Linked DNA regions of Homo sapiens: region 2 is linked to region 1. A link means that fine-mapping ties the variant in region 1 to the expression of a gene that starts in the linked region. Tissue or cell type: anterior cingulate cortex. Region 1 holds a variant in brackets; the other region holds the start of a gene. All regions are shown on one strand. Distances are from middle to middle.

Region 1 (8,182 bases):
AACCACTGATCACAGCTTTCCCCCACAGATGGAAGAACTGGGAATGGCCCCTGCCCTGCAGCCCACCCAGGGTGCCATGCCGGCCTTCGCCTCTGCTTTCCAGCGCCGGGCAGGAGGGGTCCTGGTTGCCTCCCATCTGCAGAGCTTCCTGGAGGTGTCGTACCGCGTTCTACGCCACCTTGCCCAGCCCTGAGCCAAGCCCTCCCCATCCCATGTATTTATCTCTATTTAATATTTATGTCTATTTAAGCCTCATATTTAAAGACAGGGAAGAGCAGAACGGAGCCCCAGGCCTCTGTGTCCTTCCCTGCATTTCTGAGTTTCATTCTCCTGCCTGTAGCAGTGAGAAAAAGCTCCTGTCCTCCCATCCCCTGGACTGGGAGGTAGATAGGTAAATACCAAGTATTTATTACTATGACTGCTCCCCAGCCCTGGCTCTGCAATGGGCACTGGGATGAGCCGCTGTGAGCCCCTGGTCCTGAGGGTCCCCACCTGGGACCCTTGAGAGTATCAGGTCTCCCACGTGGGAGACAAGAAATCCCTGTTTAATATTTAAACAGCAGTGTTCCCCATCTGGGTCCTTGCACCCCTCACTCTGGCCTCAGCCGACTGCACAGCGGCCCCTGCATCCCCTTGGCTGTGAGGCCCCTGGACAAGCAGAGGTGGCCAGAGCTGGGAGGCATGGCCCTGGGGTCCCACGAATTTGCTGGGGAATCTCGTTTTTCTTCTTAAGACTTTTGGGACATGGTTTGACTCCCGAACATCACCGACGCGTCTCCTGTTTTTCTGGGTGGCCTCGGGACACCTGCCCTGCCCCCACGAGGGTCAGGACTGTGACTCTTTTTAGGGCCAGGCAGGTGCCTGGACATTTGCCTTGCTGGACGGGGACTGGGGATGTGGGAGGGAGCAGACAGGAGGAATCATGTCAGGCCTGTGTGTGAAAGGAAGCTCCACTGTCACCCTCCACCTCTTCACCCCCCACTCACCAGTGTCCCCTCCACTGTCACATTGTAACTGAACTTCAGGATAATAAAGTGTTTGCCTCCAGTCACGTCCTTCCTCCTTCTTGAGTCCAGCTGGTGCCTGGCCAGGGGCTGGGGAGGTGGCTGAAGGGTGGGAGAGGCCAGAGGGAGGTCGGGGAGGAGGTCTGGGGAGGAGGTCCAGGGAGGAGGAGGAAAGTTCTCAAGTTCGTCTGACATTCATTCCGTTAGCACATATTTATCTGAGCACCTACTCTGTGCAGACGCTGGGCTAAGTGCTGGGGACACAGCAGGGAACAAGGCAGACATGGAATCTGCACTCGAGCAGCCAAAGCCTGGCAGGGAAGACAGAGGCACAGGGACCATGGGAACCCGGAAAGGAGAGGGCATGGGGTCTGGGTGGGCTTAACAGGCCAGACACAGCCAGACAAGATGAAGCCAGGGAGTGCTGAGCATCTGCACCAGGCTTGTCATTTACCATCTTCCATAAACTTGAGCCCATCCATCAAGTTGCCCACAAAGTGGAAGCCAAGTTCAAGGTGACCACTGGGGTCAGAGCTTCTCTCCTCAGACTCGGTCTCTGCACTCGCCCCAGCTGGTCACTTCCTGCTTGTGGCAGCCTTGGGCTGAAGAGCGCTAAGCTCACAGCCCAGGAGGGTGGGGAGCTGTGGCAAGCAGGGGGGGCAGCGACCGCACCACAGGTGTGAGGCCTGCCTGCAGCCAAAGACTCCTGTGTGGCTTTGGGGTACCCCCACCAGTCCCCAGTCCACTATCTGCCCAAACCTTCTCCTCCTCAGCTCCTCAGTCCCTCCCACCTCCCCTGCCCGTGGCTCCTCGGAAAGCAGGGTCAGAAGTTCCCACTGCCAGCTCGGAGTCATCCATCTAGGGGCTCAGAGATGTGTGAGGCAGGCAAGGAAGGGTTAAAGAAAGGTCCGGCCCCTCATCCCCCCGCCTCCCATCCCCCAGTCCTTTTTTGGAGGCAACAGATCAAATCCCAGGCTAGTCAGAGTGTGGGTGGTGTTGGACCAGGTTCGGGAGACAGCAGAGCAGGCCACCCTGCCCCAGCACTGTGGGGCCCTGAGCCAAAGCCTCTCCCCTTTCAGGGTACAGCTGGCTTTGGGGGAGGGGGCAGCAGGCCAGCCAACTTGGCTCCAAGGAAGGGAAGCTGCTTTCCCCTGGCCCTTCCCCAGCTGAGCAAGCCCACATAGGACCCTGAGCCCTGCCGCCTCTGCTCCTCTTCCTCCTCCTCCTCACCACAGGAGTGAGCCGTTCCCTGGCCACAGCACAGGAGTCCAGGGAGAGGACACTATGCCCTGCCCCGGGTGGCACCAATACCAACAGCACACACAGTCACAAAGGGAGCCACGAGGAGCTTTATTTATACATGAACGAAGGTAGATTTCCCTCACATATTACAAAATACACACAAACACACACACACACACACACACACACACATACACACTTTGCATCTAGAAAGTTCCTCAGAGGTAAGACTACTCCTGGGCTGGGGCGGGCGCACACAGGGGTGACCACTGGGCTTGTGGTCCAGGCTGCTCACTCTCCTCAGGTGCCAGCAGATGGAGAGGAAATTTTGAAAGAAGAAACCGGGAGACATCCTGGAGGTCAGGAGTCAGGAGCGGGGAACTGGAAGCCGCTAGAGGCTCTTGCACCATGTGGAGCGGATGTGAGGCACGATGCCTCATCTTTCCTCACTGCTTCCCTTGGAGGCGCCTGGGGCTGCGCCAGTCCCCAGCCCCCACTGCGGCCATGCCAAGCCCCTCAGAGTGCAGCAATGGCTTTAGCAGCCACCTGGCGGCCCAGGGGCAGGCTGAGGTCCGTGATGGCCAGAACCACCTTGGGGCTGGACATGGCTGACACCTTCACCAGTTCCGACACCTGCCACGGACAGACAGATGCTGCTTGCGGGACGGCTGGTGGTGGGTGTGCTGTCCCAGGGGGAAGGAGGCCCCTCCCTGCTCTAAGGGCTGCCCCGAGGCCCCAGCACCAGCAGGAGAGCCGGGAAGGTGGTACTCACGGTGGTGAAGGGCATGAACTGCAGGACGCTGCCACGGCCACCCTGCTCCAGGCAGTCCACACACTCCTCCATGAACCACTGCACGAACTGGGTGTGGGGGCCAGCGGTGCGAGACCCCAGGATGGAGGAGATGAGCAGGAACAGGTTGGCTGTAGAGAGTGGGGGGAGAGTGACAGGAGGGAGTTCCATGAGAGTGGGTGAGGTCACACTCTGGGAGAAGGTGGGACTGAAAAGGGAAAAGAAACACATGCTGAGCATGTCCCCAAAATGGGGTGTCAGAGAGAGAAAATATAAAAGGCAATTGGGGAGGGGAGGAGGGGGAACTAGACAGGAGCCTGGGGGCCAGGACAGCCAACAATGAGGGGCATGGAGAGGGAAGGGAGGGGCACCGCAAGGCCCCTTCCAGCTGACAAGGTCTCCCAGCCTCCATGAGAAGAGAGACTCGTCCAGCTTAGCCCCAGGTTCGGCAGCAGGGGTGGGGAACTCACCCAGGACTCGGTTCAGAGGGTCCCGCATGTTGACCGTGTGGAGCTGAGAGGCTGAGAGGGAGCTGCTCATGGATCGGTCTGCTGTGGGACGGAGCAGATGGAGCGCTGGGAAACAGCCTGCCGAGTGCAAAAGTGGTGCTCCCCGGGGATGCCCCAACCCGACCTTCACCCATCGGAGGTAACTGGTACATGGAGAGCCCAGAGAAGACCCTGAGATCAAGAGCACAAAGGGAGGCCAGGTACAGTGGCTCACACCTGTAATCCCAGCATTTTGGGAGGCCGAGGCAGGAGGATCGCTTGAGTCCAGGAGTTTGAGACCAGCCTTGGCAACTAGCGAGACCTCATCTCTACAAAAAATACAAAAATTAGCTGGGTGTGGTGCCAACGCCTGTAGTCCCAGCTCCTCGGGAGGCTGAGGCAGACTGCTTGAGCCTAGGAGAACAAGGCTGCAGTGAGCCGAGATGGTGCCACTGCACTCCAGCCTGAGCAACAGAGCAAAACCGTGTCTCAGAAAAACAGGCTGGGCGTGGTGGCTCACGCCTGTAATCCCAGCACTTTGGGAGGCCAAGGCGGGTGGATCATCTGAGTTCAGGAGTTCGAGACCAGCCTGACCAATATGGTGAAACCCCGTCTCTACTAAAAATACAAAAATTAGCCAGGCGTTGTGGCAGGCGCCTGTAGTCCCAGAGACTCAGGAGGCTGAGACAGGAAAATTGCTTAAACCCAGGAGGCGGAGGTTGCAGTAAGCTGAGATCGTGCGACTGCACTCCAGCCTGGGCAACAGAGGGAGACTCCAACTCAAACAAACAAACAAACAAACAAACAAAAAACAAAACAAAAAAAGGGCACAGAGGGACCTCAGATACAGAGATCCCAATGGAATGAGAGAGAAAAACTAACATGTGGTGAGCACACAGGGCCAGGGGCCGATCTTGGTACTTCCTAAGCTGCTTACTCCTCACAACACCCCATTTACAGATGAGGAGACCCAGACGGGGGCTGGCTCAGTCGCTAGCTAAAGGTCACAGCACTTGTAGCTGGCAAACCTAGCATCTTTCTTCTGATCAAGTGTATAGTTGGTCCCCTAGTTCCTAAAAGGCTTCAGAGAAAAGTTCAGGCTCAGGAGAAATCTCTGGAAACAGGAAAAATGCCACAGAAGGAACCCTTGGCAGTAAGCCTGGCAGGGAGGAGGGGACAGTGAAAAGGATGACCTCCAGGGAAGTGGTTGGTGGGGGGTGTGCTCTTTAGGCAGGAAGGTGGGGAGTAGCCCCATGCCCCAGCCCGGGCCTCTCCGGGCATGTTTTGGGGGAAGGAAGGAAGGAAGGTCAGAGCTGGTGAGTCAATGGCACAGGCTGTGCCTGAGGCAGTGAACTCACTCACTTGGGTAGCTTGTCATCCCCTCAACCCTGGGGTAAGGGAGGGGCAGGAGGGCTGTGGGGGAACAACTGTGGGCTGGGCTGGACCTGGGCAGAGGAGCTTCAACCCTCAGGGAGTGAGAACAGCAACCTCTTCTCCAGGGGCAGGACACAGAGCACCCCCTTGGGGGCTAGAACAGCAGGTCCCTGCCACACCCTCTCTGACCAGCTGCAAAGATGCCTGCAGCTGGGGCAGCGGCAGAGTGGC[A/G]GCATCGGGGAGTGAATTCCCAGGAAAAGGAGCGGCGCGCGGCCAGCCCACACACTCACTGGGGCTCGAAAGGATGTTGGCATCGTCCTCATTAGAGCTCAGCAGTCGCATCAACTTCGAAGGCTGCACATCGTCCAGGGGGAAGAGGCTGATATAATCCTAGAGGGAGTGAAAGTCACTGTTATACACCCCTAAACCCCCCAGTTTCCAGCTGTCAGGGAAAAGAGCTTGAGCTCCGATTTGAGCGAGGTCAGCATGGCTAGCAGGGCCTCAGCCCCTCTCTGCTCAACCCCTCCCACAATCTGACAGGCCCCTTGTGCCCATGGGCAAGCTGGGGCCACACAAATCACCCATGCAGATTCCTGACCAATCATGCCCAGGCACAGCTGCCCCAAGGGCAGGGGCCACAACTGCTTCCCTTTGCCTGGGGAATCCTTAGGAAATGCTGTAACAAACCGGTGAACAAGTGAAGCCGGCGAGGGCAGCTGGGGGGCCTACCTCAATGTCTTCGCGGTGTCTCTTCTTCTGGCGGGTGGACGCCTGTCCCTTGTGGGAGGAGTAGGAACTGAGGGCACACCACACGGCCAGCCTGGCAAAGGGTTCCAGAAAAAGGGGGACAGTGAGAGGTGCCCCAGGAGCTTTCTGTGTCTGACTGGGCTCCCCAAAGCCCAGTCTCCCAGGGTGGCACCAGGCGAGGGGTGCTTGACCCTGGGTGGCCGGAGCAGGGCAAGCTCTGAAGAGAATCTTACTTGGCAAGAGCAGTGCCCGGGGGGTCCATGAGGCTGTGCCACTTGGAGGAGTCAGTGAGCAGGCCAGGTAGGATGTGGCCCAGCAGGACCAGGGTCACTTGCTGCATGTCCAGGCAGAAGATGGAGTAGAGCAGCTCCACTGCCCGCAGCGTGTGCTCCTTCCGCGTCTCCTTCAGCAGCTCCTAGTGCGCAGGAAAGGGGGCAGTTCAGGAGCCAGGGGCCCGGGATCTGGGGCTCCTACACCCTGCCACCCCAGCATGGCTGTCCAGTAAGGCCCGCAGAGGGGGCCCCAGATGTTGCTCCGCCCCTCAGGCTGAATCCCAGTCTCTGGCCAGAGCTCCCCAAGGAGGCAACTCTGAGGCGAGGCATTCCGGGGAGGCCACCTGGCTCACGGCAGCCTCTCAGGGAAGCCTGGCAGACCAGGCCAGGTGTGGGGAGCCAGGGGACAGGACCCATGTCGGCCCACAGCCACTCCAGCCCAAGTACCTTAATCAGGTTGTTGCAGAACCAGTAGACGCCGCCCATGTGCAGCAGGGTGTCAAAGATGTGGATGGAGCGGCTGTCCACCCAGCCCTTCTCCAGCACCTTGGCAAAAATGTCCGTCAGCACCTCTTTGATGGGCCGCTTGGGGGGCAGCAGGTTCCAGTAGGGCATTGTGTCCACCCCGGTGGAGGGAAACTTGATCTGCGTGGCTGTCTGCTGCAGCACGTCGGCACACATGCGCTCCAGGATCGAGTTCATGATCACCACCCTGGGGGAGGGCCGAGAGAACCTGAGGCTCAGGTGCCACTGTAGGGTGGGGAGGGAGAGGAGGGAACACCCATGCCAGACTTTCCCTTGGACTTAGGTTACGGAAATCTCCCTGAGGCATTAACCCAGTTTTGCGCTGGGGGACGGTATACCCCGGGGTGACCTGGCCCCTGCTCTGCTCCTGGCAGGTCTCTCACCTGCAGGACACAAAGCCTATAAATAGGGACTGGGGAGGGACTTTCCTCCCCCTGGCCATTCCAGCCAGATATTCACATTTTCTTTTATTCTCCAACTTCCCCCATCCCCCAGGCCTGGGCCCTGCCAACCTGCCACATAAATAAACACAATCACTTCCCCCTAGGCTGAGTGCTTGGGGGTCCCCGCCCAGCCCTGGCCTCCTCCCAAAGTAAACTGTTCCTTCCAGGAGAGGCCCAAGGGCTGCCCCACAGGACTCTTCCCGGCCCCTGGTAGCTGGGCAGATAGAAGTGTATATCCAGGAATTTTCTCATGGAAAGAGGCTTCGGAAGTGAATACAGACCCGGGCCGAGTGCTGACTGTTCCTGGAATGCAGGGTGGCTCTGGGAAAGTTGCTATGACCTTTAGAGCCACTTTTCCCACCTGCACAATGGAGCCACAGACTTCTCACTACCCCTTACCCAGATAGGATTTAGGGTGCTTAGAATGGGTTACACCAGAGCAAAAGCTCCCTACTTGGTAGGGCGGGGGGGAAGGTGGTGGAGAAATGAGAGAAGAAAGGAAAAAAGGAGGAGGCAAGGGGAAAACGAGATGTGCTTTTCCAGACCGTCCAAACCTCATTCAGCTCAATGCTTCCCCTTCTCCCTATTAAGACATCCTCAGGCCCGGTGCGGTGGCTCATGCCTATAATCCCAGCACTTCAGGAGGCTGAGGCGGGAAGATCACCTGAAATCAGGAGTTCGAGACCAGCCTGGCCAACATGGTGAAACCCCATCTCTACCAAAAATACAAAAATTAGCCGGGTGTGGTGGCACATGCCTGTAATCCCGGCTACTCGGGAGGCTGAGGCAGGAGAATCTCTTGAACCCAGGAGGCGGAGATTGCAGTGAGCCTAGATAGTGCCACAGCACTCCAGCCTGGGTGACAGAGCGAAACGCCGTCTCAAAAATAAGTACATAAATAAATAAATAAAGACATCCTCAACGTTGCCATAAAGACATGGCAACACCCAAAACGTATTAGCTGGTAAACACCCATGTTCACAGCAGCACTATTCACTATAGCCCAAAGGTGGAAGCAACTGAAGTGTCCACTGACAGAGGAGGGATCAAGATGTGGTATAGCCACACAATAGAGGTTTCTTTTGTTTTTGTTTTGTTTTTTGAGACAGAGTCTCACTCTTTCACCCAGGCTGGAGTGCAGTGGCGTGATCTCGGCTCACTGCAACCTCCGCTTCCTGGGTTCAAGCAATTCTCCTGTCTCAGCCTCCCAAGTAGCTGGGATTGCAGGCGCCTGCCACCACTCCCTGCTCATTTTTATATTTTTAGTAAGGCCAAGGTTTCACCATGTTGGTCAGGC
Region 2 (8,155 bases), 34 kb after region 1:
GCCTGTAATCCCAGCTACTTGGGAGGCTGAGGCAGGACAATTGCTTGAACCCGAAAGGCAGAGGTTGCAGTGAGCCAAGATTGTGCCACTGTACTCCACCCTGGGTGACAGAGTAAGACTCCTTCTCAAAAAATAAAAATAAGGCTGGGCGGCCGGGCACAGTGGCTCACGCCTGTAAACCCAGCACTTTGGGAGGCCGAGGCGGAAGGATCACGAGGTCAAGAGATCAAGACCATACTGGCCAACATGGTGAAACCCCATCTCTACTAAAAATACAAAAATTAGCTGGGCATAGTGGCACACGCCTGTAGTCCCAGCTACTCAGGAGGCTGAGGCACGAGAATCACTTAAACCTGGGAGGCAGAGGTTGCAGTAAGCCAAGATCACGCCACTGCACTCTAGCCTAGTGACAGAGCGAAACTCTGCCTCAATCAATCAATCAATCAATAAAAAATAAGGCTGGGCGTGGTGGCTCATGCCTGCAATCCCAGCACTTTGGGAGGCCGAGGTGGGTGGATCACCTGAAGTCAGGAGTTCGAGACCAGCCTGGCCAAAATGGTAAAACCTCATCTCTACTAAAAATACAAAAATTAGCCGGGTGTGGTGGCAGACGCCTGTAATCCTAGCTACTCAGGAGGCTGAGGCAGGAGAATCACTTGAACCCAGGAGGCAGAGGTTGCAGTGAGCCGAGATCAAGCCATTGCACTGCAGCCTGGGCAACAGGAGCGAAATCCCATCTCAATAAATAAACAAACAAACAGGCTTTGTGTTAGATGATTTTTCCCAACTGTAAGCTAGTGTGTTCTGAGCACATTTACGGTAGGTAGATGGCCAGGCACGGTGGCTCACACCTGTAATCCTAGCACTTTGGGAGGCCAAGGCGGGCGGATCACAAGGTCAGGAGTTCAAGACCAGCCTGGCCAATATAGTGAAACCCTGTCTCTACTAAAAATACAAAAATTAGCCAGGCGTGATGGCAGGCACCTGTAGTCCCAGCTACTCGGGAGGCTGAGGTAGGAGAATCGCTTGAACCCGGGAAACGGAGGTTGCAGTGAGCCGAGGTCACGCCACTGCACTCCAGCCTGGGCGATAGAGCAAGACTCTGACTCAAAAAAAGGTAGGTAGATGACCTTTGGCAAGTTATGTGTATTAAGTACATTTTCAACTTATGAGTGGTATATCAGCACATCACCCCATTGTAAGTTGAGGAGCATCTGTACTCTATCCTAACCTTTATCATAAACCCATCTAGTGACTGCTTATTTACATGTCTATATTACCCACTAAATTTTCTGTGTACTGACATCGGGTTTTGTTCACAGCTATATTCCCCAGGGGCTAAGCACTGTCTGGCACATAAAAGCATTCATGAGTATTTGTTGATAGAATAGGTGAATGTAATCCTCTTTTTTTCTTTTGCTTGTTGTTGTTTTTAATAGACGGAGTGTTGTTCTGTTGCCCAGGCTGGAGTGCAGTGGCACAATCAGTGCTCACTGTAGCCTCAAACTCCTGGGCTCAAGCAAGCCTCCTACCTCCACCTTCTGAGTAGGTGGGGCCACAGGCCTGTGCTACCTGCTACCACTCCCAGCAGAATAAGTGAATGTAATATTCATCACAACAAATGAAGTATTATTTTTATGAGAACACTGAAACTCACTGAAATGATCTGTTCAAACAGATCAATCTAGAATCTTACTCTTTCATCTAGAAAGAGTAAGCTGACAATTGTACAACTGCACCCCAAATTGTGTTTGTTTGTTTCTTTCCTGAGACAGGGTCTCACTCTGTTGCTCTGGCTGGAGGGCAGTGGCAGGATCATGGCTCATTGCAGTCTCGACCTCCCAGGGCTCAGGTGATCCTCCCACCTCAGCCTTCCAAGTAGCTGGGACTACAGGGGCACCACCACGCAGGGGTAACTCTTTGTATTTTTGGGTAGAGACTGGGTTTTGCCATGTTACGCAGGCTGGTCTTGAACTCCTGGGCTCAAGCAATCCGCCTGCCTCAGCCTCCCACAATGCTGGGATTACAGCCATGAACCACCGGGGCCCAAATGCACTCCAAGTTTTTTACCCCCAGAACTCTCACTTCTTGGTGGGGGTTTGCGGGAAGCTTACCTGGGAACTAATGGCATACTTCAGGTAGGACAAGATGAGAGGATTGGGGGATGGTCCAATCATGGCCTGCTCTAGTAACGCATCTGCAAGAGGAATAGCAAAACACAACTGAGTGATTACAACTTCTCTGGGTTTATCCCTCCCATCTTTCTTTCCCAGTTCACTTGAGACCTGCCAGGTTGAGAATATCCCAGGTGGCTCCTTTAGGAAAGAATTTCTTCATGTTGATTGCCCATTGGTAGTCACTCCAGCGCTCCTTCCAGGCTTGCAAAATGGCTTGCTTCAGGTTGACCACCTTCATTATTTCACTCTGAGCAGGTGGCAGCGGTGGCGGCCAGCTTTGAGGTGAAAGAAATGGAGCTAAAGAAAAGGACATGAGGTTCTAAGGAGAACCGGGGAAGGCAGAATTAAATAGAAAGGAGAAGATGCGGGAAGATTTAAGCGAGACAGAGGAATTTGAAAGAAAAAGAGCTAAAGGGATAAAGTAAGATCCTGTCAGACTCTCTCCTCCTGAACCGCCCTTCCTTAAACTGGGGCACTAAGAAAGTATCGGCCGAGCGCAGTGGCTCGCACCTGTAATCCCAGCACTTCGGGAGGCAGAGGCGGGCGAATCACCGGAGGTCAGGAGTTCGAGACTAGCCTGACCAACATGGAGAAACCTCGTCTCCACTAAAAATACAAAATTAGCCGGGCTTGGTGGTGCATGCCTGTAATCCCAGCTACTCGGGAGGCTGAGGCAGTAGAATCGCTTGAACCCGGGAGGCGGAGGTTGTTGGGGTGAGCCGAGATCGCACCATTGCACTCCAGCCTGGGCAACAAGAGCAAAACTCCGTCTCTCAAATAAATGAATAAAGAAGTATCAAAGGGACTAATAGATTAAACAGGGCATCAAGGAGTTAAGGCAGTCCTGGTTGCCTAATTACGCCCTTAGCTCTAAAAGCGTCCCTTGGCCACCACCATTCCAAGTCCAGATTTGCTCCCTCATTTCCTCCACCTTCTCCAGCCCTGTAACTATACCTCCCAATTTCCTTTTCATCCACCACCTCCCCAAATTTAAGCCTACCGCACAATCCAGTTCTAGGTGGTAGGCATCGCCATTTTGGCACTTGTCAAGAAGCTCACTTTCTATTGGCTGGGAGTAACAAACGCCAACCAATAGAAATGCAGCAAGGAACGCCCCGCTGTCTTCTGGGAATGGTAGTTCCTTGGACTGAAACCGTATTTGTCTGCGCCGGCGAGGAAACTAAGGGACTCGTCTAGTCGGCCCGCATTGTTCTTCTCCTTTAAGGGAGGACATCCAGGAGCTGAGGCACTACAGAGACTCAGGGACTCGAGGGAGCTCGAAAGGCCGCTCACAACCCGGCGTCGCCCACGACGTCACTGTCGACCGGGCTTCTCCATCATATTCCGACACCCTTTCATTCGTTAGCCCCTAGTTAGTAGGTGCGGCAAGGGTGTGGCGTGGGGGCAAGGGTGTGGCGTTCAGCAATAAGGTCTTTCTCCTTTCCTGGGCTCTTTCTGTTCTCCTAAGCCCCTGGAGCTACCAGAGCTATTCTCATTTCCACAACTATATTCTAAAAGCGACACCGAGGTGCCTTAGTTGCACACATATCACCGTCCCCGAATCTTACAGTCCTATCAGAATCTCCAGGCCCTCCATACAGCTTGGATACAAGGGAAAGTAAAGAGGAAACTAAGGTGAAGGTGATCAAAATCAAAGGAATTCTGAGAAACTGTCACAACTAAGAGGGCTAAGGAGACCTGATGACTAAATGTAATGTGGTTTTCTGAATGCGATCATGGAAGAGAAAAAGAATACTGGGTAAAAACTAAGGAAATCTAAATAAAGGGTGGACTTTAATTAATAATAATGTATCAATATTAGTTCATTAGTTGTTACAAATGCATAATACTAATGCTAAGATGTTAATAAAAAGAGAAATTGGGTGCAGAATATGTGGGGACCCTCTATTACCTTCCATTTTTTTCCTGTAAATTAAAAACTTGTTTTTTTAAGTTTCTTGTTGTTGTTGTTGTTGTTGTTGTTTAAATCTTGCTTATCCCAAAGATCCATATATAAATTATGCCCAGGGCTTTGGCCATAGCCTTTCCTTCCCCCAGTGAGAAACCCGAAAGCAAATGTTACCCACCTCTGGAGGCTCCAATGTCTGAGCCTTCTTATGCATAGCCCTCATCCCTCCCCATGCTATGGACTGGTCATCCCTAACATTTACAACCAGGAATAAGAGTAAATTACTCGGGAGGCTGAGAAAGGAGGATCACTTGAGCTCGGGAGTTCAAATCCAGCCTGGGCAACATAATGAGACTCTCAGCTCTACCAAAATACATAAATAAATAAACATGGAGGCCTTTAGCCAGGGCCCAATATCCTAGTTCACAAGTTCAAGCTCAATCTGTATTCCTCAACAAAGATTCTTTTTTTTTTTTTTTTTGAGATGGAGGCTTGCTCTGTTGCCCAGGCTGGAGTGCAATGGCGCAGTCTCAGCTCACTGCAACCTCTGCCTCCCAGGTTTAAGCAATTCTCCTGCCTCAGCCTCCCAAGTAGCTGGGATTACAGGCGTGTGCCACCACATCCGACTAATTTTTGTATTTTTAGTAGAGACAGGGTTTCGCCATGTCGGCCAGGGTGGTCTCAAAATCCTGACCTCAGCCACCCACCTTGGCCTCCCAGAGTGCTAGGACTGTAGGCATGAGCCACCGTGCCTAGCCTCCAACAACCATTCTTTGCTCACCCTTTGAGTGGCAAAATCAGTCCTCGGGAGGATAAATCTGGGAGAGCAGCCCACTTAAGGCTCTGGAAGCAAAACTGTGGCCATTTGGGCAGAGAATTACAGCGCCCTGGGTGTCTGGAGAATGGTCTAAACAGGGAGTCAAGAACTTCTGTTCCAAAGGGGAGAGTGTGGCTGAAGGAGGGTCAGATCATGTCCTCCTGCGGTTGGTACTGCCTATGGCCTTTCTTCCTCCCCATACATTCAATCCACACCCCTCTCTTAGGCTCCCTTTGTGCCTGCCCAAGTGACACCATTGGGGAATAGTGTGTATACAAAACAGCTGCCAAATATATGTTGCCAAAGCTTCTAAAGCAGGAAGGAGGGAAATACGGATTCCTCACCTCACCTTCCAGATGACCCCCGGCCACTCCACTCATACTTGAGACTGCCACAAACCCTGCTTCTCCTCAGTCTCTCACATATCTGACTTCCCCTGTTCTCCCAGGCCCCTCACTCTACCTTTGCCTGCTCCCCTGCTGTCATTCTGTGCCTGTAGCCACAGCCTAAGGCCCTCCACCTGGAGCCATTCCTGGATCATCCTGGAGCCCCTGTCGCATACCTCAGAGCCCAAACTGCCTCTCTTGGAGAGAAGCTGTCAACTGTGTGTCCGGTCCACACAGGACTGGGGACTATTTGGGCCCTGAGGATGGTGATATTTTGAGCTCAAACCATTCCCTCTGGCAGGGAGCCTGGCAGATTTCTAGGGAGGTGCCTCCTCCCCACTTCGCAGTGACAGGGAGGCGGCTTTTGTAGTCAGGCCATCTGCCTTCTCTGTCTCCCCACCTCCCACCAGCAGCCCTTTCTCTAGGCTTGGCAAGGTTTCCCCAAAGGCTGGACTCCTATGTACAAAGGCTCCCTTAGCTCTGGGCAAGGACCATTTTTAGTTTATCCACTTTGACCTCCCTGCCTCTCTAGTCTGTAAACATCAGAGGCAGCCTTTCCTATATCACCTCTTCCTTCCACACCACAATATCTTCCTAGGGACCCCCTTGGGCTCTCTGGCTCACTGCAAGCACAGGACCGGGACCCCATGATAATCCTCCAAAGGGTGAAGAGAGATGCTAACATTTCCTTTGGGTGTACAAAAAAACAGCCCCCCAACCGGGCGCGGTGGCTCACACCTCTAATCCCTGCACTTTGGGAAGCCAAGGCAGGCAGATCACCTGGGGTTAGGAGTTCGAGACCAGCCTGACCAACATGGAGAAACCCCATCTCTACTAAAAAACAAAATTAGCCGGGCATGGTGGCGCATGCCTGTAATCCCAGCTGCTCGGGAGATGGAGGTAGGAGAATTGCTTGAACCCAGGAGGCGAAGGTTGCGGTAAGCTGAGATTGCACCATTGCACTCCAGCCTGGGCAACAAGAGCGAAACTTCGTCTCAAAAAAAAAAAAAAAAGCCCTCCAGCCCATCTCAAAGCCCCGTCCTACTTACCCCACTTTCTTTTGCTGTTCATTTCCTCTCAACAGGGACAGGGGCCGAACTCCCATCTCTGCCCTCCTAGTCCTGAGCCCCAACCTCTTTCTTCATCTTGTTGCCTACCTTGGCTAGAGAGAGAAGAGGGGAAGGTGGAAGTCAACCAGTCAGAGTGATATGGCAACCCTGGAGAAGTGTCAGAAAAGCAGCTAGGCCAGAGTGGGGTAAGAGGTGGCAAGGAACAGGGTTCTGGGTACCCAAAGGGAAGGGAACATTCCTTATCTATCTAGGCTAGAAAACAGTATAAAGAAAAGTGGCAAGAGTCCAGACCCAAAAACCCAGAAACACTGAAATCGTTGGTAAAGCATACAAGGCACAGAGGGTGTCAGCTTCCCTTCTCTCCATAGGGAAACTGAGTCATTCCTTTTCCCTAAGTGGAACATTTTCCTCTGGAAGCTTGCCTGGGTCCCCCCACTATGGGCAGCAGGTGGATGGGAAAAGAAAGACAGTCACTCCCAAACACTTATACACAGCTGGCTCCAAACCAGTCTCCTCCTCATACCAGTCACCAAATCAAAATCCCTGCTTTCTGTCTATCTGGGGGAGGGAATGATGGGAAAGAGGTCTGCAAGGTGGCTGCACCTCAGGGACTCAGGGACTACCCCTGGATCCCCCACAGTTGCCTGTCTCTGTCTTCCCACTGCCCCAGGAGAGTGAAAGGCAGAATTTGAATCAACTCTTGGAATAGCTTCCCCTCTAACACCCTGGAGGATGCCTTCCCTCTCCATACTCCCAGCACAAAGAGAAGTGCTGTGATCCTGAGGCCGACAGTGGCTGGGAAGGGAGGGCAGCCTGCCATTTCCTTTGTATGGCCCCTCCCTCCAGGCCCTGAGAGCTGCTCTGCTTTATACTTTTGGCTTCCATATCATACTACCCTATCCCCTCCTTTAACTGGAGTGGGAGAACTGCGGAAAGGTAAGCCCCAAACTCTGATGGTAAAGGAGACTTCCCTGCTCCCCCTCCTCTCCTCTCTCCTGCTGGCAAAGATAGGATGAGAAGACTCTAAGGGAAAGTGAAACCAGAAGCTGGGAGCATTTGGGGAATCTAATACTTGGCACATATTAAATGCTTAAAAAAAAAAAGTGTCAGGCTGGGTGCGGTGGCTCACGCCTGTAATTCCAGCACTTTGGGAGGCCGAGGCAGGCGGATCATGAGGTCAGGAGATCGAGACCATCCTGGTTAACACAGTGAAAGCCCGTCTCTACTAAAAATACAAAAATTAGCCAGGCATTGTGGTGGGTGCCTGTAGTCCCCGCTACTCGGGAGGCTTAGGCAGGAGAATGGTGTTAACCCGGGAGGCAAGCTTTCAGTGAGCCAAGATCACACCACTGCACTCCAGCCTGGGTGACAGAGCAAGACTCCATCAGGAAAAAACAAACAAACAAAAAAAAAAAACAGTGTCAGATTAATGAATAAAATTAGGAGAAACCCTGAAAGACAGCCTGGAAAAGGTGTCAGCTTCCTTTTCCATTTCTCACCTCAGCTACCAAAAGCAAGACTCAGCCAGGCCTGGTCCCTTCCCTGGCTCCCTCTTTTGTGACCCATAGCAATAGCGCCTGATGGGACAAAGGGGAGAATTAAGTGGCCACTTTCTCTTACCAGGTAATTGCTAATTTGCCAGTCTCTCATCTCCTGCATCAGCCTCCCAAGTAGCCAGAACTGAAGGTCTGCACCACAACACCCAGATAATTTGTGGGTTTTTGTTTTTGGTTTTTTTTTTTTTTGAGATGGAGGTCTCACTATGTTGCCCAGGATGGTCTTGAACTCATGACCTG

The links. PIP is the estimated chance that this variant, and not a neighbour inherited with it, causes the effect.
Region 2: it holds the start of MED24, and the variant in region 1 is fine-mapped to the expression of MED24 in anterior cingulate cortex (GTEx, PIP above 0.99).

What each region holds. Positions count from the first base shown.
Region 1 is chr17:40,016,767-40,024,948 of GRCh38, forward strand. CSF3 (colony stimulating factor 3) reads left to right here. Exons shown (of 5, transcript NM_172219.3): 5 at 29-1,047. The coding sequence ends at 193. MED24 (mediator complex subunit 24) reads right to left here. Exons shown (of 26, transcript NM_014815.4): 20 at 6,365-6,629; 21 at 5,879-6,060; 22 at 5,628-5,718; 23 at 5,189-5,288; 24 at 3,507-3,587; 25 at 3,019-3,167; 26 at 2,338-2,879. The coding sequence ends at 2,763. Among named protein-coding and RNA genes, the nearest start is that of CSF3, 5.4 kb to the left of the region's middle. The variant A/G (reference allele first, on the strand shown) is at 5,130.
Region 2 is chr17:40,051,184-40,059,338 of GRCh38, forward strand. It overlaps MED24 (mediator complex subunit 24), which reads right to left and starts at 3,225. Exons shown (of 26, transcript NM_014815.4): 1 at 3,178-3,225; 2 at 2,286-2,452; 3 at 2,115-2,197. The coding sequence starts at 2,415. RefSeq lists an enhancer at 3,425-3,484.